4 linked regions of the Homo sapiens genome follow. The protein of the gene in region 3 interacts with the protein of the main gene of each other region in a biochemical or structural test. Each region holds a gene or a part of one and is shown on either strand. Other genes may lie near its edges.

Region 1 (7,024 bases), on a different chromosome or scaffold from region 3:
TTAGGGCTAAAGGTCTGCAGATTGGCGGTTTACTCTCAAACAGTTTTTTAAAAGTGTTTCAGAAAATTTATATACACAGAGAGAATGAGAAGATAACACAAGCAAATGTAAAATCTTAACAGTTGGAGTGTTATGTAAGAGAATGTTCTTGTTTTTAGGGAGTGGAGAATTCTAGAATAATAATTTCTTGTAGGCAAGAAGGGAGTGGGATCTAATACATAGATGTAAGTTTTGAGAATAAGGACAACTCTTTCATAGTAATAGGACTAGAGGTAGGATATAAGGGCACACTTGCAAGTAAATGGAAGCTTGTGGAAATTCTCTTCCATTGCCCATTTTCTGTGTTGTAGGAAGCAGGGTTTGTCAGCTGATAGTTTAAATCTAGCTAATTAGAACATTTGTATATTTATGGAATACTTATCTGCCAGCTTAAGCATTAGGAATACCAATATAAATGACATAATCTTGCACTTGAGATCTCACAATTTGAGACATAGTGCTAATTGTAATGCATCACAAAATACCCTGTAAAGGTAATATTAAAGTATTAATATTTTGTATCTAGAGGCTTTACCATACATGTCTTTGACTCACTTACTTCACTTACAGAAATCCACAAAATCGGCTGGGCACGGTGGCTCACGCCTCTAATCCCAGCACTTTGGTAGGCTGAGATGGGTGGATCACCTGAGGTCAGGAGTTTGAGACCAGCCTGGCCAACATGGTGAAACTCTGTCTCTACTAAAAATACAAAAATTATTCAGGTGTGGTGGTGGGCGCCTATAATCCCAGCTGCTCAGGAGGCTGAGGCAGGAGAATCGCTTGAACCCAGGTGTTGGAGGTTGCAGTGAGCTGAGATCGCGCCATTGCACTCCAGCCTGGGTGACAAGAGCAAAACTGTCTCAAAAAAAAGAAAACCACAAAATCTAACCTAAGGAAATGATTTGCAGTGCACAAAATATTAAGCACAGATATTTAGGGCAACAATTTTCATAGTAGTGTAAAATTGGAAAGCAACTTGCATTCTAATAGTTTGGGAATGGTTATATAAATTATAGGAGCAAATTGACAGAAATTGTTTAGCCATAAAAATTGTTTTACACAAAGATTTGAATTTTAAGGCTAAAAGCCTGTGGTCTGATATTAAGGGAAAGAGGCAAGCTATTAAGCGTTTTTTGTTTTGTTTTGTTTTTAGCTTTTTCTTTTTTTGAGACAGGTTCTGTTGCCCAGACTGGAGTGCAGTGATGTGGTGGCCTAATAATGGCCTGCTGCAGCCTCAACATTCCTGGGCTCGAGCATCCTCAAGCTATTAAGTTTGTAAAAGTAAAAAAATTACAGGATGAGCCCAGTCAAGTGAAAGCAAATCAGTAACAAAAAAAAGTCTTTAAAAAAATGTTAAGTATACACACACAGAAACACACAAATTTCAAGAGTGTGGCAGATTAATGAATTTTTAAACTAATGTGACCTGTATAACCAGTCCTTATATCAAGGAAAGTTATTTTCAGAGCTTTCTTTATAATCTTTATAATACTGCCTCATGTCTCAAAAGTAAGAAGTTTGTTTGTTTCTTTACAGGCAAGTGTCAATTGAGGAGGGAGAGAGGAAAGCCAAAGAGCTGAATGTTATGTTTATTGAAACTAGTGCAAAAGCTGGATACAATGTAAAGCAGGTAAGTTGAGTTGAGGTTACCAAATTGAAAAAATATGAAATAATTGTGTGAGTATTCTATTCTCTGGTGTATAGGTTTCCTTCCACCTGGCAAGAGCAGGCCTTACAAACTAGCAGTATATTTTCAAACAGTGAAAAATATAAATGTGGCATAGTTTTTGGAAAAAGAGAAAAGACTTGCAAACTTCAGATCGTGGATAGAACTACTGCAAAGTGGTAAATCTACCATATTGTCACTACATTCCTACTACATTGCTTTAAAGGTAAATTTTCTTTTCTTTTTTTTTTTTTTTTTCTTTTTTGAGATGGAGTTTCGCTCTTGTTGCCGAGGCTTGAATGCAATGGCGTGATCTCGGCTCACTGCAACCTCCACCTCCTGGGTTCAAGCAGCTCTCCTGCCTCAGCCTCTCGGGTAGCTGGGATTACTGGCATGCGCCACCATGCCCAGCTAATTTTGTATTTTTAGTAGAGATGGGGTTTTTTTCATGTTGGTCAGGCTGGTCTCAAACTCCTGACCTCAGGTGATCCGCCTGCCTTGGCCTCCCAAAGTGCTGGGACAGGTGTGAGCCACCATGCCCGGCCGGTAAATTTTATTTCAGAGTTTGATGCCAAGACTGAGATAAATGAAAGCAAGTATTTACTGTCAGTAATGGTGTTCCACTTCTTGTTGTAAAAGTAAATTCTGGTTACTTTATCCTTAATAAAATGCTGGTGTTTGAACAGTGTTTACAACAGGTCTTTTTGGGGGAGGGCAGGAAAATATAGGGAGATGTCACATTATCAAGCCATTTTCTACAAGATAGGTCAGCCAGAGACTCACATGCTTAACTCTTCAAGGCTGTATATCATGTAGGGTAGTGGTCCCAGATTTATAAGATTTATGGACCAATAATTTTTTTTTTTTTTTGAGATGGAGTCTTGCTCTGTCGCCCAGGCTGGAGTGCAGTGGCGCGATCTCGGCTCACTGCAAGCTTCACCTCCCAGGTTCACGCCATTCTCCTACCTCAGCCTCCCGAGTAGCTGGGACTACAGGTGCCTGCATCACGCCTGGCTAATGTCTTGTATTTTTAGTAGAGACGGGGTTTCACTGTGTTAGCCAGGATGGTCTCAATCTCCTGACCTCGTGATCTGCCTGCCTCAGCCTCCCAAAGTGCTGGGATTACAGGTGTGAGCCACCACGCCCGGCCTAGACCAATAATTTTCTTAATTGAGGGTGATCAACAGAGGGTAACAGTAACATCATTTAAATAGTTAAAGCTTTAGGAAGAAGTCTTTATATTGTTTTTATATTTTTTAATTTATTTCCCTCCATGCCTTGAATCATAATGTAAGTAATATTGAATGATCACTGATTCTTTCCTCATTAACATATTGTTTCATGGTCATGGTTTGATACCTGTGCTCATGCTTTTGTTTCCTTTGCTTAGAATGTTCATTTTTTTTCCCTTTCCTAATTGTACTCCTTATAAGTTTCAGTTTAGATGTCAGCTCCTCAGCAACATTTTCTCTGACATTTCCCATCCTACCTCCTGTCTGTGACACCTGATTCTCTTATGTGTTTTCACCGACCTGATCTCAGCAAAAACAGTATCATTACTTACCATAGTATATTGAAAATCTCTCTCTCTCTCTCTCTCTCTCTCTCTCTCTCTCATCGGAATTATATATTCCCAGAACCTAGCAATGTGTATGGAACGTAGTAAGTGATACGTAACTGAACCCATAGGAGCCACAGACAGTTAAATAATTTGTGTAATACCATTATATTAGCCATATGCCACTATTCTAAGACAAAGCAGTGGGTAGCTTCATCTGGCTTTCTCTTTTCTATTTCTTATATATATTTTCTCTTATATTTATTTATTTTTTTATTTGAGACAGGGTCTTGCTGTGTCAGCCAGGCTGAGTGCAGTGGTGCAATCTCGGCTCACTGCAACCTCTGCCTCCAGGGTTCAAGTGATTGTCATGCCTCACACTCCCCAGTAGCTGGGATTACAGGTGTGCAGCACCATTCCCGGCTAATTTTTGTACTTTTAGTAAAGACAGGGTTTCACCTTGTTGGCCAGGCTTGACTCAAACTCCTGGCCTTAAGTGATCTGCCTGCCTCTGTCTCCCAGAGTGCTGGAATTACAGGTGTGAGCCACCACACCCAGCTGGCTTTCTCTTTTAGAGACATTTTGATAAGGGTGTGAGCTAGTTGCTTATATATCCTGGTACAGGCTGTCCTTTTCCTGGTTAATAGCTAAAGAAGGCATTGCTGTAGTCCCCTAGCCCTGACCCTAAGTAGTCTCATAGGTTTAGAAACTCTAGAATTATCAGATAGCATACAGTAAGCACCACTGATGTCTAGTATCTTCATAATGTTTGATTGCTTCCAATTTTATTTTTATTATTTTTGTTATTTATTTATTTATTATTTATTTTCGAGATGGAGTCTCGCTCTGTCATCGAGGCTGGAGTGCAGTGGCGTGATCTCGGCTCACTGCAAGCTCCGCCTCCCAGGTTCACGCCATTCTCCTGCCTCAGCCTCCCGAGCAGCTGGGACTACAGGCGCCCACCACCACGCCTGGCTAATTTTTTGTATTTTTAGTAGATAGGGGGTTTCACCGTGTTCACCAGGATGGTCTCGATCTCCTGACCTCGTGATCTGCCCACCTCGGCCTCCCAAAGTGCTGGGATTACAGGTGTGAGCCACTGCACCCAGACTATTTTTATTTTTTATTTATTTATTTTTTTTGAGATGGAGTCTCACTCTGTCGCCAGGCTGGAGTGCAGTGGCACGATCTCAGCTCACTGCAACCTCTGCCTCCTGGGTTGAAGTGATTCTCCTGCCGCAGCCTCCCGAGTAGCTGGGACTACAGTCGAGCGCCACCATGCCCAGCTAATTTTTTTGTATTTTTAGTAGAGACGGAGTTTCACTATGTTGGTCAGGATGGTCTCGATCTCCTGACCTCGTGATCTGCCTGCCTCGGTCTCCCAAATTGCTGGAATTACAGGTGTGAGCCACCATGCCTGGCCCTTCTTATTTTTATTTTTTTGAGTTGTGGTCTTGCTCTGTTGCCCAGGCTGGAGTGCAGTGGCATGATCACAGCTCATTGCAGCCTTGACCTCTCAGGCTCAAGTGATTCTCCCACCTCAGCCTCCAGAATAGCTGGGACTACAGGCACACACCACCATGCCCAGCTAATTTTTAATTTTTTTCCAGAGAATAGGTTCTTGCCATGTTGCCCAGGCTAGTCTTGAACTCCTAGACTCAGGTGATCCTCCCAACTTGGCCTCGAAGATTTCGAGATTATAGGTATGAGCCCCTCTGCCTGGTCGATTTTTAGTAAATTTATAGCATTGTACAACTATTACCATAATCTGATGTTAGAAATTTTTTTTTTTTTTTTGAGATGGAGTCTCCCTCTGTTGCCCAGGCTGGAGTGCAGTGGCACCACCTCGGCTCACTGCAACCTTGCCTCCCGGGTTCAAGCAGTTCTCCTGCCTCAGCCTCCCAAATAGCTGGGACTACAGGCGCATGCCACCACGCCCAGCCAATTTTTGTATTTTTATATGATCCTGACCTCAAGATCCATCCATCTCGGCCTCCCAAAGTGCTGGGTATACAGGCGTGAGCCACGGCGCCCAGCCCTTCTTACTTTTAATTTAGATTGTTTTTGTTTTTGTTTTGGGTTTTTTTTAGACAGTCTTGCTCTGTTGCCCAGGCTGGAGTGAGTGGCACAATCTTGGCTCACTGCAACCTCCGCCTCCCTGGTTCAAGTGATTCTCATGCCTCAGCCTCCTGCCTAGCTGGGATTATAAGTGCATGCCACTGTGTCTAGCTAATTTTTATATTTTTTGTAGAGACAGGGTTTTGCCACGTTGGCCAGGCTGGTCTGAAACTCCTGGCCTTAGGTGATACGCCCACCTCAGCCTTTCAAAGTGCTGAGATTACAGGCGTGAGCCACTGTATCTGGCCAGAAATTTTTTAATTGTCAGTTTATTCTGCCTCCCCACTAAACAACAAACTCCATAAATGTTCATTGAATGAATGATAATATACTTTATTTTTTTTTAGCAGATTCTTAGAGCTGCATTGTTTTGCCATAAAAATAAGATTTATTTCATGTCCTTGGTTCTGTCTTAAGAATTTTCTTAGCTAGACTGAACAAGCCCTAGAGAAGCCAGGTTACTTGGAGAATTGCCCTTCATTTGCTGTTTTGACTACACCTTAGACATAGATACATGTTCATCTTCCGTTTCTTTGCATTCACCTGAACCCATGTTGAATTTTTTTTTTCCAATTTTTTTTAATTAGGCCAGGCATGGTTGCTCATGCCTATAATCCCAGCACTTTCGGAGGCTGAGGCAGGCGGATCACTTGAGGTCAGGAGTTCTACTAAAAAATTAAAAAATTAGCTGGATGTGGTCTCATACACCTGTAATCCCAGCTACTCGGGAGTCTGAGGCAAGAGAATCACTTGAACCCAGGAGGCGGAGATTGCAGTGAGCCAAAATCACACCACTGCACTCCAGCCTGGGTGACAGAGCGAGACTCTGTCTCAAGAAAAAAAAAAATAATAATATATATAAAATTGAGATAAACATTTATGTACAGTGAAATGTATACATCTTAAATTGACTATTAGATGAGTTTTGGTAAATGTATTTACAGGTATAATGACCACAGCAATGAAGATATGGAAATATGTTGTTAATTTCCCAATGTTTAGGGACATTTCTAGATAATCTTAATTGTTACTGGCTTCTAATTTAATTCTGTTATAGTCAGAGAATACACTCTGTAATATTTCAGTCATTTGTAATTTATTGAGACAAGTTTTATGGCCTATCATATGGTCTATCTTATTGAATGTTCTTATATGTACTGGAAAAAGAATTTTTTTTACAGTTATCAGGTATACTAGTTAACATGTTTGACAGCATTCTCAAACCTTATATAGCCTGGCTGGGCACAGCGGCTCATGCCCATAATCCCAGCACTTCAGGAGGTGGATGTGGGAGGATCACTTGAGGCCAGGAGTTCAAAACCATCCTGGTCAACATAGTGAAACCCTGTCTCTACAAAAGTAGAAAAATTTTTTTGAAAATTAGCTGAGCATGGTGGCATGCACCTGTAGTTCCAGCTACTCAGGAGACTGAGGCAGAGGATTGCTTGAGCCCAGGAGTTCAAGGCTGCAGTGAGGCATGATTGCGCCACTGCATTCCAGCCTAAGCAACAGAACAAGACTGTCTCAATAAACAAAAAAACACCTTATATATCCTTACTAGTTTTTTGTCCAGTTCTGTCGATAACTGAGAAGGGGATATTGAAACCTATAACAACAACGATGTATTGTTCGCTTTGCTG
Region 2 (7,024 bases), on a different chromosome or scaffold from region 3:
ATACAGATACTAACTAAGGATGGAGTAACTCTTGTAAAATATATAGATGAAAATGTTTAATTCCGATTACCATATAGGTCAATTTAGAATTTTAAAAGTTGGAGTTTAGTGTTAATTATGTGTTTTTGACAGCTTTGACTTTAAAAGCATTTAAAAGAAAGGGGAGTCTTTAAGCATTTGTTAGGATGCTAGCATTCTAAGGAACCCCTGTTGAAAACAGACATAAGAAATTGTAGTCCTTGCTCTCAAAAGCTTATCCTTTAGTTGTAGAGGGAGGCTATGGGGAAAAAAAAATTAAAACAATAGCGTGATGACTGCAAGATTGTAAAATACAAATTGAATCATTTGTTCAGAGTGGCAAAGAGTAAAGGGGTGAGACTGATGGTTGGGAGAGGAAAGACTTCCTGCGGACAAGGTGTATTAGGACTGATGTTAAAGGAGGTGGTAACTTGAACTGGTAGAAAAGCATGAAAGGTCTAGGTGGAAGGAGTGTACCAAGGAACAATGATGGTGAGTTTTGCATGAGAGACAATAATCAAGTTGACAAATCTGAATTAAAGGGGCCTAAATAAGAACATAAGAACAGATGGAATTTGAGAAATAAGAGAAAGTTAGCTGATGGAGGGCAGAGGGGTTCTGTACAAGTTTGATTGAGATTCAGAAGAGATCTGGATTTATTGTTGGTTGCTGAATAAGACGTAAGATGATTTTTGCAGTTGAATTAGTGAATTATAGTAGAGAGATGCTAGAGCCTTTTTAGGGAGCTAGTAGGGTATGTTGTGAATCATGAGGGAATAAAGTAAAATGTGAAAGTGGGGTGAAAGGAACAGGTTTGAGAGACAGTGTGAATGAAGAACTGGCAGAACTTCATACTGGACTGAAGTGGAATATTTGTGAAGGAGTCAAGAGTTAAAAATAAATTCTGATGTTACTGGCCTGGAAGACTTGACTGCTAAGTTATATTGTTAATTGTAATGGGAAAATTGAGAAAGTGCTGAGGTGAGAGGGTAGGTGAGTTCACTTTCTTAAAATTTAATATACAATAAGTTCCCTTGAAATTCAGACAGCAGTTAGTTACTGGCAATGATATTTGACTTCCTAGTCTATTAATTGCACAGTTTCTAATTTTTCTACACCTAAAGATGTTGGATTTATATTCGGGAGCAGTAAACTAAGGGCTTTTATTTAAATGCTTCTCATCAAAGTCCTAATTTTTTTTTTTTTTATATACAGCTTCAAAAGCCTCACACTTGAAACCTGGTTATAATAGTTTCATGATGGCTTATTTCAGATCAATGAAAATACTTTTGGGACTAAACTGTGACTGTAACATTTTAGATATGTAGCCATTAATCTTTGATATATGCTTAAAACTTGTTTTTTATAAATAATGATTATTACTATTATTTTAAATGCAAAATTTATCTAAGAATAAAGTATTGAGAGCCTTCACTTTGTGAAGACTCCAGAAGAAATTAAAAGTTGATTTTATAACAAGTATTTTTTGCCCTTTTTGTTGAGTTTAGGCATTAATCCCAAATTTAAATCAGTATATTTGAAATACTACTTTTTACTTGCTATAGTGAAACCAATGTTTCATTTTTGTTCACTTCCAAGTTTACATGTAATTAAATAAATGTTTATAAAGTTTTTCTTTAGAATCACATGATATTTTACTCCATAGGGAAAGTAAGGGACTGTTTGTGGCACTTTTGGTTAAAATATTAGTAATCCTTTTGGTATATACAATTGGAGAAAATTTAGCTAGTTGTTTAGGTTTAATACTTAAATATAAGATTTAGAAATATGAAAATAAGTCTGTATCACTTAAGTTGTTTCCTCATATAAAACTTTTTTAGATCAAAATTTCTATTAGCAAAGAGAGAATAATAGTAGCTGCATATTATTCTGCAGTATTACGTCGTATGGTGATTAAAGCCAAAGAGTAGGTAGCAACTTAGAGTTTCCGTATTCCCCTGGGAAGTTTAATCTCTTTATGACATCTAAAAATTAGGTTATTAGAGTTTAGTCCATTTCTTGATAATCCTGTGTTAATGTGGAAAAGAGTTCATGTGTGAGACTGAAAACCAGAACTTTATTTTCAGTCATTTCCCAACCCGACTTCCCCAGAGTTGTTAAAACGTTTAAGATATTTAAGAATTGCATGCTTTCTTGTTGCATGCACCTGTAGAATGCTAATTGTGAAGTGACAGTAAGTCACAGGCAAAAGGAAAAACTTCAAGGGAACCCAGTGATTCACAAATCACCTTATGGCTGATTGGGAACTGCATTTAGAAAATGAGGTGACATCTTCTCATTTCACTGGCAAAGTTCAGCTGAAAATCAGTACTTGCACGCTTTACTGTGTAGCCCTTATATTAGAATTGAGTTGCAGGTGTGAGATAATATTTTGGAGAAACAGCAAGGCTGGGAAAGTCAGAGATTTTATTCCAGCAGCAGAGTCTAAAGAGTGGGAGAGCTCTATTTGTGTGTGCACTTTATGCATAGAGAAGGCTGTGAAACATGCATATGTTGACCCTATTGTCACAGTTCCATACTTTTAAATAAGACCCATGAAGTTGAGACAGGGTTGGAGATGACAGACAGGATGTGAGATTGTGGTGCTTCTTGTGATGCTCCACCCTATAATGGAGAATGGAGGGGCAGAACGCTTGTGTGGGTGAGACAAGAGTGTGTGTTGGTACTAACAGGACCAACCGGGTTCCCCGGATATTGTTCTTCTAAGAACATAATCACCATAAGTAAATTAATTTGTTGGAATGTTTATCATTTTCTAGCTGATTTTTTGTGTGTGTGTGTGGGGTGGTGGTGGTGGAAGGGGAGTTTTCCCCGATTTCAAGAATAAAAGCATTTTCATTGTTCAGAAGAAGAGCATTTTCATTAAAGCGGAGGTTGCACTCTTGGCATTTTATCTTGAGTTATACAAATCATCCTTGGTTATACAAATCAAATTGCTTTTGAAATTTGTTGAGTGTAATGTATAAATGTATATTTATATAAAAACCTATGTGAATAGAACAGCAAGGAAAAACTGAGTAGAGTTAAAGAAGTTTGTTTTCCCTGAGATTTTCTGCCTTTAAATTTATATAAAAAAGGAATATTCCATTTTACGTTATTGAGTTTTCTATTTTTTTAAATGAGCTAATACTCAGTACATAATGGACATTTTTAGTAAATTATTCCAATATACTTGTGTCTGTAATGCATTTGATGTGGTATAAGATTTAGAAACACAATTTAGTTCGGCTGGCACGGTGGCTCACGCCTGTAATCCCAGCACTTTGGGAGGCCGAGGCGGGTGGATCACGAGGTCAGGAGATCAAGACCATCCTGGCCAACGTGGGGAAACCCCGTCTCTACTAAAAATACAAAAATTAGCGGGGGCGTGGTGGTGTGCGTCTGTAGTCCCAGCTACTCAGGAGGCTGAGGCAGGAGAATCGTTTGAACCCATGAGGCGGAGATTGCAGTGAGCTGAGATCGTGCCACTGCACTCCAGCCTGGGCGACAGAGAGAGACTCTGTCTCAAAAAAAAAACAAAACAAAAGACAATTTAGTCGATTTGGGTTCTTAGTTTATAATCCCCCTTACCATTTTTGCTTATATTTTGGGAAGAGAGGTCAACTTCCAAACAATGTGCAGGTTCCAATTTTATAAGTGATTAAATCTTATATTTTTTGTATTGAATAGTTTTCTTAGCATGTTTGGTTTGATCACTTGAAGTAATGATGTATTTGTCTTGAAACTAGTTTTGTCAAACCAACTTTTTATTTCCAGAGTACCATGGTTAACAACAGCACAAAGCCAAGTCCTTAACGTGTTCCCTTAATAACATGGTCTAAGGTTAATTTCTTGATTCTTATTTCAAATCAATTCAGTAATAAAAAGTACACTTTTTTTTTTTTTGAGATGGAGTCTCGCACTGTTTCCTGGGCTGGAGTGCCATGGCGTGATCTGGGCTTACTGCAACCTCTGCCACCCAGGTTCAAGCGATTTTCCTGCCTCAGCCTCCCAAGTAGTTGGGATTACAGGTGCCTGCCACCACACCTGGCTAATTTTTTGTATTTTTAGTAGAGACGGAGTTTCACTGTGTTGGCCAGGCTGGTCTCAAAATCCTGACCTTGTGATCTTCCCACCTCGGCCTCCCAAAGTGCTGGGATTACAGGCGTGAACCACCACATGTGGCCGAACTAAATTGTGTTTCTAATTTAGTTTTCCTGAAGAATAACAGCTATGCATCAATGTGGAATTGTGTTATTTGGAATCTCACCTTATTGGAATTGGCTGGTAATTGACAGTAAACCAGAAGTGCTCCTGAGCAGCTAATATCTGCAGACAAATGGAGTGTAAACTTTGCTCATAGGTTAGTTTTCAGGCTTTTATTAACGGTTCCTTGTTATTATTTAACATATAGTTGTAATTCATTGAGTTGTCTGGGTTTTTTTGAAATCACAGATCAGGGGAATGGATAGGTACTGATTAAGCATTATGCTACTGAAAAGAATGGATGATTAGGGGAAACAAGCATATTGGGATTACTTAGTGTATGTAGGGTATGTAGGTTCATATAGTTCCAGGGTAAATCATTCTGATAATTGTTGAAAATGTTCACCCAGAGAAATTTTTTTTTTTTTTTGGAGACAGGGTCTCGCTGTGTTGCCTATGCCTAGCCTGGAGTGCAGTGGCACAGTCTTGGCTCACTGCAGCCTCTGCCTCCTGGGCTCGGGTGATCTTTTAACCTCAACCTCTGGAGTAACTGGGACTATAGGCATGCGCCAACATGCCTGGCTAGTTTTTGTAGTTTTTATAGAGAGGGGGTTTCGCCATCTTGCCCAGGCTGGTCTTGAACTCCTGGAATCAAGCAATCCTGCCTCAGCCTCCCACAGTGCTGGGATTACAGTCATGAGCCACTGCACCCATCTGAGAATATTAATTCTCTTTTAAAGAGGCAGGAGGCAGAAAAATCTCTTGTGGAAACCTGGGCTTCTGCATAAACTACATAAAATATCTGTAATTTGTTGATCACTGAAGTGATGAAGAGAACTGGGTCACCTCTGTCTGATTCACCATCTTCTAGTTGGATTTCAGCAGTATGGATAAAGGTACTAAAGTCTTTAGTGTGCTAGCCCAGGGTATTGTTTCCAACTCTTTCTTCCATTGTCCATCTACATTTATTAACTCAGCAGCAGAGTTTTATCTGATTTAAGATTTGTTGTCTTACTATTTCTGTTTTTTTTTTTTTCCTCCTTAGTATATATGGAATTGCTGCTTGGATTTTGGCTGGCTTGTACCTTTTGTTTGTGGACTGCTTAGAAGGCACTGCATGGAGTCATTTAAGCTTTCTTATGAATTATGAATAGCTATGTAGAGAGGAACTTTTCTAGATACATTTATGGCCTATGAGAATTGAAAAGCTGGGTATCTTAATTGTTAGGCTGAAGAAAAAGGGTGATAGTGGCAAAGTAGTTTTTCTTTTGGAGGTCTGAGAAATTCTTAGGGGCTTAATTGGCTAATATAACTAGAAAGGTTGGGTGATTTAGGTTTTTTTCCAAGGAAAGGTATCTTATTTAAATGCAACACTGTCTGCTTCCTGTTATTTTATAAAATTAGTTAATACTTTTTTTTTTTTCTCAAGACGGAATGTCACTGTGTCGCCCAGGCTGGGGTGCAGTGGCACAATCTTGGCTCACTGCAACCGCCACCTCGAGGCCTGGTTCAAGGAATTCCCCTGCCTCAGCCTCCTGAGTAGCTGGGATTACAGGCATATGCCACCATTCCCCGCTAATTTTTTTGTATTTGTAGTAGAGATGGGGTTTCACCATGTTGGCCAGACTAGTCCTGAACTCCTGACCTCAGGCAATCTGCTGGCCTCAGCCTCGCAAAGTACAGCAAAATCAGTTAATATTTTTAATTGATTAACACTTTCTTCATGACCTGTGTTGAAGTTATTGAGTTGAGTCAATTGAATTTCTAATGCTAGATTTTGAGTATGTGGTGTGAGCACCTGAAGAGTTGGAGGTACTGGAATTATGTCTGACATCAGACTGATAGTATTTGCAGGGACATTTGCCCTAGTGGAATTCAGGGTTTTCACATTCTATACATTACTTAAATTATGAAGGAAAGGGGGAAGCTTTGAGTTGGTAGACTTTTAATAATAAGATATAATTACATGTATATAGAAGAGCAACGTACTGTATATCATATTCTCATAATATATGGTAATAACGGCAGTAATTATTGAGTGCGGTGTGCCAGATAATTGCATGTTTTATTTACCTATTTTGCTTTAAATTTTAAAAAATGTAATTTACTCACATGGTTCAAAATTTTAAAGATATTCAGTGAAGTCTTCTCTCCTGCTCTGCAACAACCAGTTCTCTTTCCTGGAGACCACTGGCATTACAATTTCTTATGTGTCCTTTCATAGGTATTCTGAATCTTTACGGATTAATGATTTCTATAGTAGACTTGCATTTTGTGTATACATACATAAATTAACAATAGCTTTAGCAGAAGTGTTAGAATTAAAACAAATTTAAATCAGTAACTCTAGAAAATTGCTATTTTTTAACCTATTAAATTAGTAAATACTTATTTCTCTAAATATAAGTTAGTTGGAGAATAAGTGCAAAGATGACAGAGCTCCTCTCGTGGCAATTAGAGGTAAAATGTTAATAGTCTTAACCAATGAACAATTAATAGCACATTTAAAATAGATGTTTATTTCATAATAAAAAGACAGGATAATTTTTTAACTTTCTATTTTTCTAACATCTTAGATGAGAAAACCTGTTCTCTTGAGAGATCAGAGGCGCAGAGTGCGTCAGTGTCAATGAAGCCTGTGCCTTTTACTTCTTTAAGAGCGTACGGTTTCATTCTGCTCCTAAATCAAGCACCCCTTAGTTGTTGAATAAAAATTACTTTTATAAAGGAATATATGATTTAAAGAAATCAAATAGTGCAGAAGGGCTTATGATGGAAAGTAATCTTCTGTCCTCCAGTC
Region 3 (7,307 bases):
GCCTCTTTCATTTTTTTTTTTTTTTATTTGTTTTTGAGACAGGGTCTTGCTCTGTCACCCAGGCTGGAGTGCAGTGGCACGATCATGGCTCACTGTAGCCTTCACTGCCAGGCTCATGGGATCGTCCCACCTCAGCCTCCCAAGTAGCTGGGACTACAGGTATGCACCACCATGCTCGTTCGATTAAAATTTTTTTTTTTTTTAGTAGAAATGGGGTCTTGGTATGTTGCCCAGGCTGGTCTCGAACTCCTGAGCTCACATAATCCTCCTACCTTGGCCTCCCAGAGTGCTGAGATTACAGGCATGAGCCACTGCACCCAGCAGCCTCTCAGATTTTTATTCTTTGCACTCAACAAGCTCTTTTCTGCCTTTGGCTTTTACACATTATTTCCTTTCCCTGAAAAGCTTCTCCCCCACATTTTGTATATCCGACTCCTTTTTGTTCCTCATAGATAATAAAATGAATATCACTTCTTCAGAGAGATCTCTACTGATTATCTTTTTTTCTTCTTTCTACCTAAATTTTATCCTTGTTTTTCTTTTAAAACTTTTAAAAAGCACATATAAAATGCTTATGTGTGTGATACTATTCTATTCACAACAATCTCATAATTAGATTATATTATTATCTCCTTTTTAGATATGACACAACTGAGAAACACACAGCTAGTAAGTGGCAAAGTTGGATATGACCCAAGTAGACTAGCTTGTGCTTTTTTTTTTTGCTTTTTTTCTTTTCTTTTTTTTGAGACGGAGTCTCACTCTGTCACTTGGGCTAGAGTGCAGTGGCGGATCTCTGCTCACTCCAACCTCCAACTCCCGAATTCAAGTGATTCTCCTGCCTCAGCCTCCCGAGTAGCTGGGATTACAGGCGCCCACCACCACACCCAGCTAATTTTTGTATTTTTAGTAGAGATGGGGTTTCACCATGTTGGTCGGGCTGGTCTCGAACTCCTGACCTCAGATGATCCGCCCACCTCGGCCTCCCAAAGTACTGGGACTACAGGTGTAAGCCACCGAGCCTGGCCTTTTTTTCTTTTCTTTTGGTGAGTCTTGCTTTGTCACCAGGCTAGAGCACAGTGGCACAATCAGTACATTGCAGCCTTAATCTCTTGGGTTCAAGCCATCATACTGCCTCAGCCTCCTAAGTATTGGGGACCACAGGCATGTATTACCATGCCCAGCTAGTATTTTTTAATTTTTTGTAGCCATGAGGTCTCGCTATGTTGCCCAGGCTGGTCTTGAACTGCTGGCCTCAAGTGACCCTTCTGCCTCAGCCTCCCAAAGTGCTAGGATTACCAGTATGAGCCACCACACCCAGCCTAGGAATGCTTTAAGAAATTATTTTCTATATACCTGTCATTGATATATATGCAATACATATGGCATATACGAAAAAAGAGGGAACTGTAACTATGCAGTACTGGAACAGCATGGTGTATAGGAAAATAAATTTGGCTGGGCATGGTGGCTCACATCTGTAATCCCAGAACTTTGGGAGGCCAGGGTGGGAGGATCACTTGATCCCAGGAGTTTGAGACCAGCCTGGGCAACATAGACAGACCCTGTCTCTACAAAAATTTAAAAAATTAGCTGAGTGTGGTGGTATTCATCTGTAGTTCCAGCTACTCAGGAGGCTGAGGTGGGAGGATCGCTTGAGTCCAGGAGGTTGAGGCTGCAGGGAGTCATGATCATGCCACTCCACTCCAGCCTAAGTGATGGAGACCCTGTCTCAGAAAAAAAGAGAAAAAAAACAAGAAAATAAGTTTATCTTCTTTACGTTAAATACCAACATTTAAGGATCAAAGTTCAACTAAGCAACATCTTAAAGTGTCAGAGTGTGCAAGACATGCCTGAAATCAGACAAAAGTGACAAGTGACAAAAGTGTATCAATCAGAAAAACGGGGCAGGATAGAGCATAGGGGCTGGACCACAATGGAAATTTAGCAAAAAGGAAAGTCACAGAGGCAAACTCTGTTCTTAGTTTGATCCAAAGGAGAGGGAGGCACAGGCAATCTAGTGCGAGTCTTATGATCCCTTTGGAAGGCCTATGCTTACAGTTTGTAGAGTGAGGAACAGCCAGAGGCTTCCTGGGAAGGCAGGTTAGCTACCTGCAATTGCAGGTTCCATCTCTTTTCAGCAGTTCATCATCATTCATCAACGTGTCAGAGGTCAGATGCCACGGGAGCACACAGGAGGGGCTTCCCACCTGGAGTGCGAGATAAGGAAAGATGGGTCGGATGTTGTAGTCATTATCATCCGCTTCTCTACAAGGCTGGAATTTATGGTGGCTGCACATTTGGAATGTTTTCTCCTTTTATTTATTTATTTTTAGATCAGACAATCACAAGAGAATATTCTTTTGTTTTATTTTTAGATCAGACAATCACATGAGAATATTCTGTTGTGATCGCTGGCGTTTAGAAGGAAACTTGTCTGGTTTGTGAAGCAATGGAAAACACATCCAGACAGCCTGCTAGTGGAAACTTTGGAAGGGCACTGTCATATGCTTTTTCTCCCACGCCATCAACAAGTGTCCTTTTTTTTTTTTTTTTTTGAGATGGAGTCTCTGTTGCCTAGGCTGGAGTATAGTGGTGCCATCTGTACCCTCCACCTCCTGGATTCAAGCAATTCTCCTGCCTCAGCCTCCCAAGTAGCTGGGATCACAGGCGTGCACCACCATACCTGGCTAATTTTTGTATTTTTAGTAGAGATGGGATTTCACCATGTGGGCCAGGCTAGTCTTGAACTCCGGACCTCAAATGATCCATCCACTTCTGCCTCCCAAAGTGCTGGGATTATAGGCGTGAGCCACTGTGCCCGGTCAACAATCATCTTTTTTTTTTTTTTTTTTTTTTTTACCAGGTACACAATGATGGGAGAGTTGAGTCCTGCTTTCTAACTTAGAAAACGCATGTGTGTTCATCACCTGGTCACTGAGAAACAGCTCTGGAATAGGTGCCATGCAGAAGAAGAGAGGGAACTGGAAAGACCCACTGATCTGTGGGTCTCACAGCCTCCCGTTACACAGAAATTGCTTCTTTTCTCTCATGTTGCGTTCTTCCTCTTGATTCTCGACCCTTCTCCACTCTTTCATTTACTCCACTCTTACTTTGCTTTCACCTCCTTTTGTAACCGTTCATCATCACTCTTCATATGGATTAATGTGATTATCTTAAAAGCATGTAATATGTAGTTGCTGGGTTTGTATGAGTAATGAGTGAACCTGAAGCCAACATAATGATCCCGTTTAGTGCTCCCGAGTTAAGATTCCAGAGTTGCCTGACTTTGGACAAATCACATCTCCCTTTGCCTTTCACCCCCTGTAAACTGAGGATAATGGCTCTTACCTCAAAGCATTGTTAGGATTGGAGAGAACGCATGTTACATACTTAGAAGAATGCTTGGTATGGGTCTCAAGAACTCTTAGCTCTTATTGTTTAAAAAATGCTTATTACAGGGCATCGTTGGTATCTTATATAGGGAATTTCAAGCAGTTTTCCTTTATTGAAGACACAGAGTAAGGTGCTTTGATGGAAACTATTGGGGCAAGATATACAGTACCTAGCTAGAGGTTTCCTGGGTGCATGTATTGTGGAGATATTTTTTTTCTGAGTGGATAGCGCTCTTGTGATACGCTGGGTGAGGGCGAGCAATATTTAGCGGACTGTCCTGTGAGGATAGTAAGGTTATCTGGTGAGAGTGTTAGGTGGCCCAGGCCAGACTTGGGAGAGGCAGGGAGAGAGGGGGACGACGGAGGAGGGCGCCTTGGGGTGCGTCTTGAAAGCTTTGGGAAACCCAGCGGTCTTTTGGGGGCAGGTGGCCCAAAAAGCCTTCTGCGCGCCCAGGGGACGAGGAGGATGCGCGGACCGCGACCGCGATAGTTTTGTTTGCTTTTCTCGGGAGAAAGCGTTCCAGGCAGTTTCCTGAGCTTCGGCCCTCGACGTAGCAAAAGAGCCCGGGCGCCCACGCCGCTCTCGGGGTCTTCTACTGCCACCGGGACAAAGCCCTGGGAGGAGCTCCCGCCCCCGCGAGCCGGACAGGGCGGAGGCTCCCCCGCCGCGCGCGCCCCACCGCTTCCCAGTCCCAGACCCGTCGCCTGCGCCTCCTCCTGGCGCGCCTCACGGTGCAGCGGGCGGCGGCCCGCGCGCCCGGCGGGAGGCGCCTCGGGATGTTTCCGTCTGGTCCTTCCCTCCGCCCCCCGCGCTGACTCCATCCGCTCCCCGCCCCCTGCTCGGAGCCGCCGCCACGCGGGAAGGGAGGGAGCCGGCCCCGAGACTGCATCATTCCGCACCGGCTGCTGCAGGGCCAGAGGGAGCAGGTGGAGCGAGAGAGCGAGCCGCGAGCCGGAGCGCGCCAGACCCAGGGCGAGACTGCAGTGACGCGGCCCGGGAGACATGGCGGACGGGCGTCTCTGAATAAGCAGAATCCGGAGCCCCTCGCTACCCGCGGCCGCCGCAGCCCGGGCCATGCCGCACGGCTGCTGACCGCACGCAGGGGCCGGCCCCGAGGACACATGCGGCGGCCTTTGCCGCCTCGCCCCTGACCCTCTGCCCTGTTCTCCATGTTGCATTTCTCGTCAGTTTCTCGGGCGGTGTAGCTGCCGCTGCCACCAGAGCCGGCGGGGCATCGCGCTGCTCATTCATCCGGCCGCACTTTCTTTTCCGTTTCCACCCATCCCTTCCCATTTCCTTCTCCCTTTCCCCGCCAGCTTCGCATCCATCTCCCCCACCCCGTAACCCCCTCCTGCCTCCATCCACCGGGGCTATGGCCGCAGAAGAGGTATTGCAGACGGTGGACCATTATAAGACTGAGATAGAGAGGCTAACCAAGGAGCTCACGGAGACCACCCACGAGAAGATCCAGGCTGCCGAGTACGGGCTGGTGGTGCTGGAGGAGAAGCTGACCCTCAAACAGCAGTATGATGAACTGGAGGCTGAGTACGACAGCCTCAAACAGGAGCTGGAGCAGCTCAAAGAGGTGAGTTGCCTGTCACCTCTCCCTTTCCTGGCCCTCACTCCCCCCACCCGCAAGGCCCACTCATCATGATCAAGAAGTCATAAAGGAGGTGATTGAAAGGACTGTTTTTTCTTCTAGGGCCCTTTGTTGGTAAGAGAAGATTGAAAGAGTCCATTGTTTCCTCCCCCAAGAGAAAAATTGCCTAAGAAATGAATATATAAGCTGGAATTTGGGAGGCAATGGCTGTTTGGCCTGCGGGGGAGGGAGATTAGTAAGAGTCATCAAGTCTCAGCACTCTAAGACGACATTCAAGTGGGTTGGAATGTATAAATCAAACTTCTCAAAACCGCTGTTATCTCAAACCCAGGTTTCAGCGACAATTTCGTAGTCCACAAAAGTGATGAGGTTTGTGCCTGAGGACCCACAATTTCAGGATTTAGACTGTGTGGCACCTCAGCTTTCCTCTGGATGTAACCACTCCTTGGTGAGAGAGGGAACTCCTCACCAATCCCATTTGACAAAGGCTAGGCAATCTTCATTCTGCTTGGCTTTAGTCATTCTTGTCATTGGGCTGCAGAAGAAAAACAACTTTGCTGGGTGATCCCACTGCCTTGATTTCACCTCGGAGCGAGGCTGGGCCATGTCCAAGTCTTATGAGGTCACCCTGACTAGAAAAAATTGAACTCACCTACAAATAGTCTGAAAGAGTGGTGTATATCAAATACGTGGGTAGTGTTGCATTTCAAATGAGGCTCTTCTGGTTGAAATGATATATTTATAAAACCAGAATATCAAAAATGGGTGATGTATAATGTCTCTTTAGTTTTTTGGTATTTGGCCTCTTTTAAAGCCTGTCGGATGTATGGGAGAAAACAATGAACGTGCTTTGATTTCCTATCAGTCACTCTTAAGAACATACATATTGTTTAAGTAACTCGGTCTTTTTTATCTGATTCTTGAGGCACTATGGGTAGCAAATAACCACTTACAAATTTAAATGTAATATACACTCCTTTTCTGTGTGTCAAGTCCTTATTTTTAGGTGCATATTGACATTTAAATGTTAATTATTGTTTGGCATATAATATCAAAAATCTATTATTTATTTTATGCTGTTACAGTTAAAAGATGTGATTTATGACATACTGAATCAACTTGCCTTCCAATTTAGTGTGTAATATGGTAAGCATTTATACTTTTAGATATGTCTTATTTTTATTTGGATGCCTGTCTACCAAAAAATAAATGTACTACCTATGATTAAAAATCCCAACTAGGAATCTAATTTTTGTGTGTCAGGCTGTAAATTTCTGGTTCCTATTTTACTTACCATGTACCTGTCTGGTCTTAACAACAGCTGGACTTGTTTATATTTTCCAACTTAGATTAGGCTGACATGTTTAAATGCAGTGATGCTAAACCTTGTGAAGTGAGGAAGCAGGATGATGACTGTCATTCTCAGAGATGTTTTGATATTGTCTATACCTATCAACACTGCTTTGCCAAGATAGGGAAGTGCAAACCAGAAAGTGGTAAGCCATCACCTTCTTGATAAAGGAGATGGACTTAATTTAATGAAATGTACCTCTTACTGACTTTGCTGCTTGATTTAAACAATCCTTCTAGGGATATTTCTGTCATTGCACTTACCTTGCATAGCAAACCTTAATGCAATTGTGTTTTGCCTTTGCTACACCATGAGCTTTGCATCCCAAGTCTTTAACACAAAAGCTAGCACACAGTGGGCATGAAATATTTTATGAAAGAATCAGTTTGTACTAGAAGAAGGCACACTTTTATCAAGGGTTCACTAGTCAATATTGATTAGTGTTAGATAAATACTAAGAAAATTAGGATGTATAGGAAGTGACAGATGTTAATAAAACTACCTGTATTAGTTTCACCAGCAGTAATGAGAAAAATGTGAAAAAAACGTTTTGTAGGAATAATGTAACTGTGGTTTCTTAATACAGAATAATGCAAATACCAACTAAAATTTTTTCTATAAATATTTTAATATATATTTTGTTCTATATAGCAGGAGGTTAATAAAAATTTACCAGCATTATTTTTACTAAACGATTCTTGTTCATATATTTATTTTCAGTTGCATTTAGCATAAGTGAAATTCGAGATTCCTAAAAAACTGGTTTATACAGTTATATAAAAATGTATTTTAGGTAATAAAATTATTATAGTTGATTATTTGATAGTGAGGCCTATTATTTTTATTCTTTAAACATAGAATATACTTTAGTTGGAAATATAACTTAAATGAGTTAAATTGATTTCAAGTAACATTTCTTGTATGAAAAGTAAATCCAAAATAATTGTGCAAACTGAGGTG
Region 4 (7,024 bases), on a different chromosome or scaffold from region 3:
CTGCAGGACAGAGATCTTCTCAGGCAAGTCTGTGGCCCATGAGGACATCAAGTACGAGCAGGCCTGTATTCTCTACAACCTTGGTGAGCTGCCTGATCCCTTCCCCCGGCCCTACTCCCCAGTCCTGCCAGCCTAGCTTTCAGCTCTTCAGATGGCCACAAAGGCAGTGGGCTGATAAAGGGAGGACTCCAGGATTCCCGCCCCTCCACTGACCTCCCCACAGCCCTGCCAGCTCCTCCACTGTTTTCTGGGCTGGGCCCGTGGGGAGCCTCTGCTGGGGCGAGGCTCTACTGGGCTGGCTGCCACACAGAGTTGCCACTGTGTGCTCTGTCTGGGAGAGAGGGCCTTTCTTCTTTGACTGGACAGCCCCTCCCCACTGTGGTTTTGGGCTGCTTCAGGCAGGAGGAGAGTGTGGCTGGCCTCAGCTTACCCTGCTAGTCAGCCTTAGCCTGGCTCAAGGGAGAAGCTTGGGGAGCCCCAGAGTTCTGTGCAAACATCCCTGAAGCTTCAAGATTGGACCCCTTGGACAGGAGCCCTTCCATCCTCTGCCAAATGCAGAGCAGGAGACTGAGGGCTGGGCAGGACTTCTGAGTTTCCCTGTTCCCTCCAGCTTGGGTGTCCTTGGACTCGTTGCCCTGGTTCTCAGAGCCATGTTGTCCTGATTGTGGATAACAGCAGTGCCCCCTCTGTCTCACCTTCACATGGGTGTGAGCAGCCCCAGGCCCCTAACACTGTCCCCTCCCTCCCCAGGAGCGCTGCACTCCATGCTGGGGGCCATGGACAAGCGGGTGTCTGAGGAGGTGAGGAGAGGGGCAGTAGTGGAACATGTGGACATACCAGGGAGGGGCAGCCTCCCAAGTATGGATGAATCCTGACCCATGGAGTGGACACAGGCCATCCTCCCACTCCCTCCCAGGGCATGAAGGTCTCCTGTACCCATTTCCAGTGCGCAGCCGGCGCCTTCGCCTACCTACGGGAGCACTTCCCTCAAGCCTACAGCGTCGACATGAGCCGCCAGATCCTTACGCTCAACGTCAACCTCATGCTGGTGAGGAGGCGCCCTGGTTGGAGTGGAGTTGAATCCAGGGAAGGGGATGGCCAGGGAGGGGGCAGTTGGGCCTGGATCCTGGACCAAGGCAGTGAGGGACAAGCAAGGGGCCTTGGCTTTGTTGAATCAGGAGCACCGTGGTGCTGCTTGGAGTGGGGGCAGCTGGGGGAGAGGGCAGTGAAGAGGGATCCCTCAGTCTGCCCCTGGGGAAGGATAAAGGGAAGGGGAAGCGGGAGGCCTTGGGTGAGCGAGGGAGTGCACCTCACGTGTCGCCCCAGGGCCAGGCTCAGGAGTGCCTCCTGGAGAAGTCGATGTTGGACAACAGGAAGAGCTTTCTGGTGGCCCGCATCAGTGCACAGGTAGGGACGGGGCTGAGGGGAGGCCTTCACTTTACTGCTGACTCCCCCACTCATTGGGCCCCACCCTGTTCTCAGGTGGTAGATTACTACAAGGAGGCATGCCGGGCCTTGGAGAACCCCGACACTGCCTCACTGCTGGGCCGGATCCAGAAGGACTGGAAGAAACTTGTGCAGATGAAGATCTACTACTTCGCAGCCGTGGCTCATGTGAGGGCCTGGGGCCCCAGGGCGGGGCAGGGCGGGGCTGAGTGGCCACAGCTCAGGAAGCAAGTCGTGGCGTCTCTTCTTCTTTCCCAGCTGCACATGGGAAAGCAGGCCGAGGAGCAGCAGAAGTTCGGGGAGCGGGTGAGCTACAGCGAGGAGGGGACTGGGGACCAATGGCAGCCTTCAGTGAGATGCCGGTGTGCTCCCGCTCCTTACACACCAGGGGGTGGCCTTCTCTGTCTCACCCTGGCCATCACCCTGCTGGAGGCCTGGTGTCTTAAGTGTTGTCCCATCTGTGCAGCCCTCGTCCCTCGGGGTCTGAGGAGGTGGGGCAGGCTCCCTACAGAGCAGGTGGCTGGGGCAGGGTGTGGCGCCACCTTGCTGCTGTTGGCTGGGGTGGTGCCCGGCTGCCTCCTGAGCTGCTTGTCATCTGATGGACAGGCAGGGCCGGGTGGGAGGCAGGAGGAGAAAGGGTCCAAGCAGAGGAGGACAGAGCAGGCTTTCCTGCCACCCTCCACAGGTTGCATACTTCCAGAGCGCCCTGGACAAGCTCAATGAAGCCATCAAGTTGGCCAAGGTAAAGCTGAGGAAGGCCTGGCTGCCCTGAGGGTATAGGAGCAAGCCCGGTAGGACTGAGGGGGTGTCCTGGTGCCAGCCTTGGTTAGTGCTAAGGCCCCACCCCTGTCCCTAACCCCACAGGGCCAGCCTGACACTGTGCAAGACGCGCTTCGCTTCACTATGGATGTCATTGGGGGAAAGTGAGTCTGTGGGGGTGGCCCTGGTTCCCTCTTTTTGTGAAGGGTCTTGTCCCTCTGCTGGCATCTACATGGGAAGTAGGTTCTGGATCCCCACTGACACCCCGTGACTGCCCACTCCCCCTGCTCCTGATCCCCAGGTACAATTCTGCCAAGAAGGACAACGACTTCATTTACCATGAGGCTGTCCCAGCATTGGACACTCTTCAGCCTGTAAAAGGTCGGGGAGCTGAGAGGTGGGGGCAGAGGTGACGGTGGGGTGGGGACAGGACACAGGAGGCTGCCTCAAGGACTCTGCGTGGGCCTGATCTCCACAATTCCCACCCCCCCAGGAGCCCCCTTGGTGAAGCCCTTGCCAGTGAACCCCACAGACCCAGCTGTTACAGGCCCTGACATCTTTGCCAAACTGGTACCCATGGCTGCCCACGAGGCCTCGTCACTGTACAGGTGGGTGGAGGGTGGCACAGAGGGAGGTGGGGTGTCTTGAGATGTGGGTCTTCAGCAAATGCTCTGTCGCTTCTGCAGTGAGGAGAAGGCCAAGCTGCTCCGGGAGATGATGGCCAAGATTGAGGACAAGAATGAGGTCCTGGAGTGAGTGTGGGACTTGGGCAGGGAGGCGGAGGCAGGCAGCACTTCCCGGGCCTCTGGGGGCCCCAGGGCTGCCTATGCTGGGAGAGGAATGAAATGTCCATTCCAAACAGGTTTCCCAATGCTGCCTTCCCGCCTGGGGTGGTGGGGCTAGTGTGTAAGGCAGGAGTCATGTCTTGGGAGGAGGAGGTGCCTTCTGTTCCACTGTTTCCAGCAGTGCCCTGGGCATGTTCTGTGAGACCAGGCCAGACCTGGTAGTAGGGGTCCGAGGTCACAATTTGCTCTCTGCTGAGACCTCAGATTGAGTGGTGAGGCTTGCCCTAGCGGCTCCTTTGACATGGTCAGAGTTGGATCAGCACCCAGCACCCACCTGGCCCTGTTGCTCCCCACAGCCAGTTCATGGATTCAATGCAGTTGGATCCCGAGACGGTGGACAACCTTGATGCCTACAGCCACATCCCACCCCAGCTCATGGAGAAGTGCGCGGCTCTCAGCGTCCGGCCCGACACTGTCAGGAACCTTGTACAGTCCATGCAAGGTGAGTAAGGGGCAGAGCAAGCAGGTGGAAGGGAGTGTGGAGGTCATCTGCTGTGGCCTCCTCCGTGTCCCTGGTCACTGAGGATGGAGGCTGCACCCCTCTAGGCCCTGGCTTGGGCATCCACACCCACTCCTCTGAATCAGCATACCTCTTGCACCCTGCTCAGTGTGCGCTGGGCCTCACTTAAGCCCTGACCTGAGGGGGCGGTTCTGTCTCTTGGGGGAGGGGCCCATGGGTGCCCGGTCAGCCTGCCTCAGGGGCTGCCTGTACAATCCACAACCCCAGTGCTGTCAGGTGTGTTCACGGATGTGGAGGCTTCCCTGAAGGACATCAGAGATCTGTTGGAGGAGGATGAGCTGCTAGAGCAGAAGTTTCAGGAGGCGGTGGGCCAGGCAGGGGCCATCTCCATCACCTCCAAGGCTGAGCTGGCAGAGGTGAGGCGAGAATGGGCCAAGTACATGGAAGTCCATGAGAAGGCCTCCTTCACCAACAGTGAGCTGCACCGTGCCATGAACCTGCACGTCGGCAACCTGCGCCTGCTCAGCGGGCCGCTTGACCAGGTCCGGGCTGCCCTGCCCACACCGGCCCTCTCCCCAGGTGAGCCCCACCAGACCCCATTGGGAGACTCGAGCTGGGGGTTTCTCTGGCCTCACTGACCACTGCTGCCCACAGAGGACAAGGCCGTGCTGCAAAACCTAAAGCGCATCCTGGCTAAGGTGCAGGAGATGCGGGACCAGCGCGTGTCCCTGGAGCAGCAGCTGCGTGAGCTTATCCAGAAAGATGACATCACTGCCTCGCTGGTCACCACAGACCACTCAGAGATGAAGGTGGGCTGGGTGAGCAGGGTAGAGGGGCTCTGGCTCCGGGCCCCACCCTTAGGAGTCGAGGCCCTGAGTGTCCGTCCCTGGCCCCCACCCCTTCCTCAGAAGTTGTTCGAGGAGCAGCTGAAAAAGTATGACCAGCTGAAGGTGTACCTGGAGCAGAACCTGGCCGCCCAGGACCGTGTCCTCTGTGCACTGACAGAGGCCAACGTGCAGTACGCAGCCGTGCGGCGGGTACTCAGCGACTTGGACCAAAAGTCAGTGCCCAGTCCTCTGCTCTTTCCCGGAGCCACCTGGAGCCCAGCCCCATGGTTCACCTGGAGCTGGCCCTTCTGCCCACCAGGTGGAACTCCACGCTGCAGACCCTGGTGGCCTCGTATGAAGCCTATGAGGACCTGATGAAGAAGTCGCAGGAGGGCAGGGACTTCTACGCAGATCTGGAGAGCAAGGTGGCTGCTCTGCTGGAGCGCACGCAGTCCACCTGCCAGGCCCGCGAGGCTGCCCGCCAGCAGCTCCTGGACAGGTTTGTGTGGCCCTGGGGCTGTGGTGCGGCTCGGGTCCAGACAGGCTGGGGTGATGGGAGCCTGGCCCCACTTTTTCCTTGCCTGTCGCACAGGGAGCTGAAGAAGAAGCCGCCGCCACGGCCCACAGCCCCAAAGCCGCTGCTGCCCCGCAGGGAGGAGAGTGAGGCAGTGGAAGCAGGAGACCCCCCTGAGGAGCTGCGCAGCCTCCCCCCTGACATGGTGGCTGGCCCACGACTGCCTGACACCTTCCTGGGAAGTGCCACCCCGCTCCACTTTCCTCCCAGCCCCTTCCCCAGCTCCACAGGCCCAGGACCCCACTATCTCTCAGGCCCCTTGCCCCCTGGTACCTACTCGGGCCCCACCCAGCTGATACAGCCCAGGGCCCCAGGGCCCCATGCAATGCCCGTAGCACCTGGGCCTGCCCTCTACCCAGCCCCTGCCTACACACCGGAGCTGGGCCTTGTGCCCCGATCCTCCCCACAGCATGGCGTGGTGAGCAGTCCCTATGTGGGGGTAGGGCCGGCCCCACCAGTTGCAGGTCTCCCCTCGGCCCCACCTCCTCAATTCTCAGGCCCCGAGTTGGCCATGGCGGTTCGGCCAGCCACCACCACAGTAGATAGCATCCAGGCGCCCATCCCCAGCCACACAGCCCCACGGCCAAACCCCACCCCTGCTCCTCCCCCGCCCTGCTTCCCTGTGCCCCCACCGCAGCCACTGCCCACGCCTTACACCTACCCTGCAGGGGCTAAGCAACCCATCCCGGCACAGCACCACTTCTCTTCTGGGATCCCCGCAGGTTTTCCAGCCCCAAGGATTGGGCCCCAGCCCCAGCCCCATCCTCAGCCCCATCCTTCACAAGCGTTTGGGCCTCAGCCCCCACAGCAGCCCCTTCCACTCCAGCATCCACATCTCTTCCCACCCCAGGCCCCAGGACTCCTACCCCCACAATCCCCCTACCCCTATGCCCCTCAGCCTGGGGTCCTGGGGCAGCCGCCACCCCCCCTACACACCCAGCTCTACCCAGGTCCCGCTCAAGACCCTCTGCCAGCCCACTCAGGGGCTCTGCCTTTCCCCAGCCCTGGGCCCCCTCAGCCTCCCCATCCCCCACTGGCATATGGTCCTGCCCCTTCTACCAGACCCATGGGCCCCCAGGCAGCCCCTCTTACCATTCGAGGGCCCTCGTCTGCTGGCCAGTCCACCCCTAGTCCCCACCTGGTGCCTTCACCTGCCCCATCTCCAGGGCCTGGTCCGGTACCCCCTCGCCCCCCAGCAGCAGAACCACCCCCTTGCCTGCGCCGAGGCGCCGCAGCTGCAGACCTGCTCTCCTCCAGCCCGGAGAGCCAGCATGGCGGCACTCAGTCTCCTGGGGGTGGGCAGCCCCTGCTGCAGCCCACCAAGGTGGATGCAGCTGAGGGTCGTCGGCCGCAGGCCCTGCGGCTGATTGAGCGGGACCCCTATGAGCATCCTGAGAGGCTGCGGCAGTTGCAGCAGGAGCTGGAGGCCTTTCGGGGTCAGCTGGGGGATGTGGGAGCTCTGGACACTGTCTGGCGAGAGCTGCAAGATGCGCAGGAACATGATGCCCGAGGCCGTTCCATCGCCATTGCCCGCTGCTACTCACTGAAGAACCGGCACCAGGATGTCATGCCCTATGACAGTAACCGTGTGGTGCTGCGCTCAGGCAAGGATGACTACATCAATGCCAGCTGCGTGGAGGGGCTCTCCCCATACTGCCCCCCGCTAGTGGCAACCCAGGCCCCACTGCCTGGCACAGCTGCTGACTTCTGGCTCATGGTCCATGAGCAGAAAGTGTCAGTCATTGTCATGCTGGTTTCTGAGGCTGAGATGGAGAAGGTGAGAAGAGGGGGTGGGTGCCCACGAGGGCAGTGTGGGGTGGCAGGGCAGGGGATCCTGGAAAACCAGGTCTGTCTTGGCTTATCTGTCCCTCAGCAAAAAGTGGCACGCTACTTCCCCACCGAGAGGGGCCAGCCCATGGTGCACGGTGCCCTGAGCCTGGCATTGAGCAGCGTCCGCAGCACCGAAACCCATGTGGAGCGCGTGCTGAGCCTGCAGTTCCGAGACCAGAGCCTCAAGCGCTCTCTTGTGCACCTGCACTTCCCCACTTGGCCTGAGTTGTGAGTCCACTGCTCTGGATGGTGGTTGGGGGTCTAAGTGCTGTCCAGTCCTTGG

The links.
Region 1: the proteins of BICD1 (region 3) and RAB6A form a complex in vitro, tested with the Homo sapiens proteins (3 studies listed by BioGRID).
Region 2: the proteins of BICD1 (region 3) and GSK3B form a complex in vitro, tested with the Homo sapiens proteins (one study listed by IntAct).
Region 4: the proteins of BICD1 (region 3) and PTPN23 form a complex in vitro, tested with the Homo sapiens proteins (one study listed by BioGRID).

What each region holds. Positions count from the first base shown.
Region 1 is NC_000011.10:73,702,068-73,709,091, reverse strand, and holds part of RAB6A (ras-related protein Rab-6A), read left to right. Parts: intron 1-1,578; coding exon 1,579-1,672; intron 1,673-7,024. UniProt on the Homo sapiens protein: The small GTPases Rab are key regulators of intracellular membrane trafficking, from the formation of transport vesicles to their fusion with membranes.
Region 2 is NC_000003.12:120,084,432-120,091,455, reverse strand, and holds part of GSK3B (glycogen synthase kinase-3 beta), read left to right. Parts: intron 1-6,807; exon of another isoform or gene 6,808-6,892; intron 6,893-7,024. UniProt on the Homo sapiens protein: Constitutively active protein kinase that acts as a negative regulator in the hormonal control of glucose homeostasis, Wnt signaling and regulation of transcription factors and microtubules, by phosphorylating and inactivating glycogen synthase (GYS1 or GYS2), EIF2B, CTNNB1/beta-catenin, APC, AXIN1, DPYSL2/CRMP2, JUN, NFATC1/NFATC, MAPT/TAU and MACF1.
Region 3 is NC_000012.12:32,102,564-32,109,870, forward strand, and holds the start of BICD1 (protein bicaudal D homolog 1), read left to right. Parts: upstream 1-4,283; 5' UTR 4,284-4,768; coding exon 4,769-4,981; intron 4,982-5,098; coding exon of another isoform or gene 5,099-5,125; exon of another isoform or gene 5,126-5,327; coding exon of another isoform or gene 5,328-5,348; exon of another isoform or gene 5,349-6,081; coding exon of another isoform or gene 6,082-6,138; exon of another isoform or gene 6,139-6,245; intron 6,246-7,307. UniProt on the Homo sapiens protein: Regulates coat complex coatomer protein I (COPI)-independent Golgi-endoplasmic reticulum transport by recruiting the dynein-dynactin motor complex.
Region 4 is NC_000003.12:47,404,999-47,412,022, forward strand, and holds part of PTPN23 (tyrosine-protein phosphatase non-receptor type 23), read left to right. Parts: intron 1-6; coding exon 7-83; intron 84-750; coding exon 751-800; intron 801-916; coding exon 917-1,048; intron 1,049-1,326; coding exon 1,327-1,407; intron 1,408-1,482; coding exon 1,483-1,614; intron 1,615-1,704; coding exon 1,705-1,752; intron 1,753-2,131; coding exon 2,132-2,188; intron 2,189-2,310; coding exon 2,311-2,369; intron 2,370-2,506; coding exon 2,507-2,586; intron 2,587-2,698; coding exon 2,699-2,813; intron 2,814-2,891; coding exon 2,892-2,957; intron 2,958-3,346; coding exon 3,347-3,492; intron 3,493-3,777; coding exon 3,778-4,089; intron 4,090-4,164; coding exon 4,165-4,319; intron 4,320-4,418; coding exon 4,419-4,570; intron 4,571-4,656; coding exon 4,657-4,836; intron 4,837-4,929; coding exon 4,930-6,688; intron 6,689-6,784; coding exon 6,785-6,969; intron 6,970-7,024. UniProt on the Homo sapiens protein: Plays a role in sorting of endocytic ubiquitinated cargos into multivesicular bodies (MVBs) via its interaction with the ESCRT-I complex (endosomal sorting complex required for transport I), and possibly also other ESCRT complexes.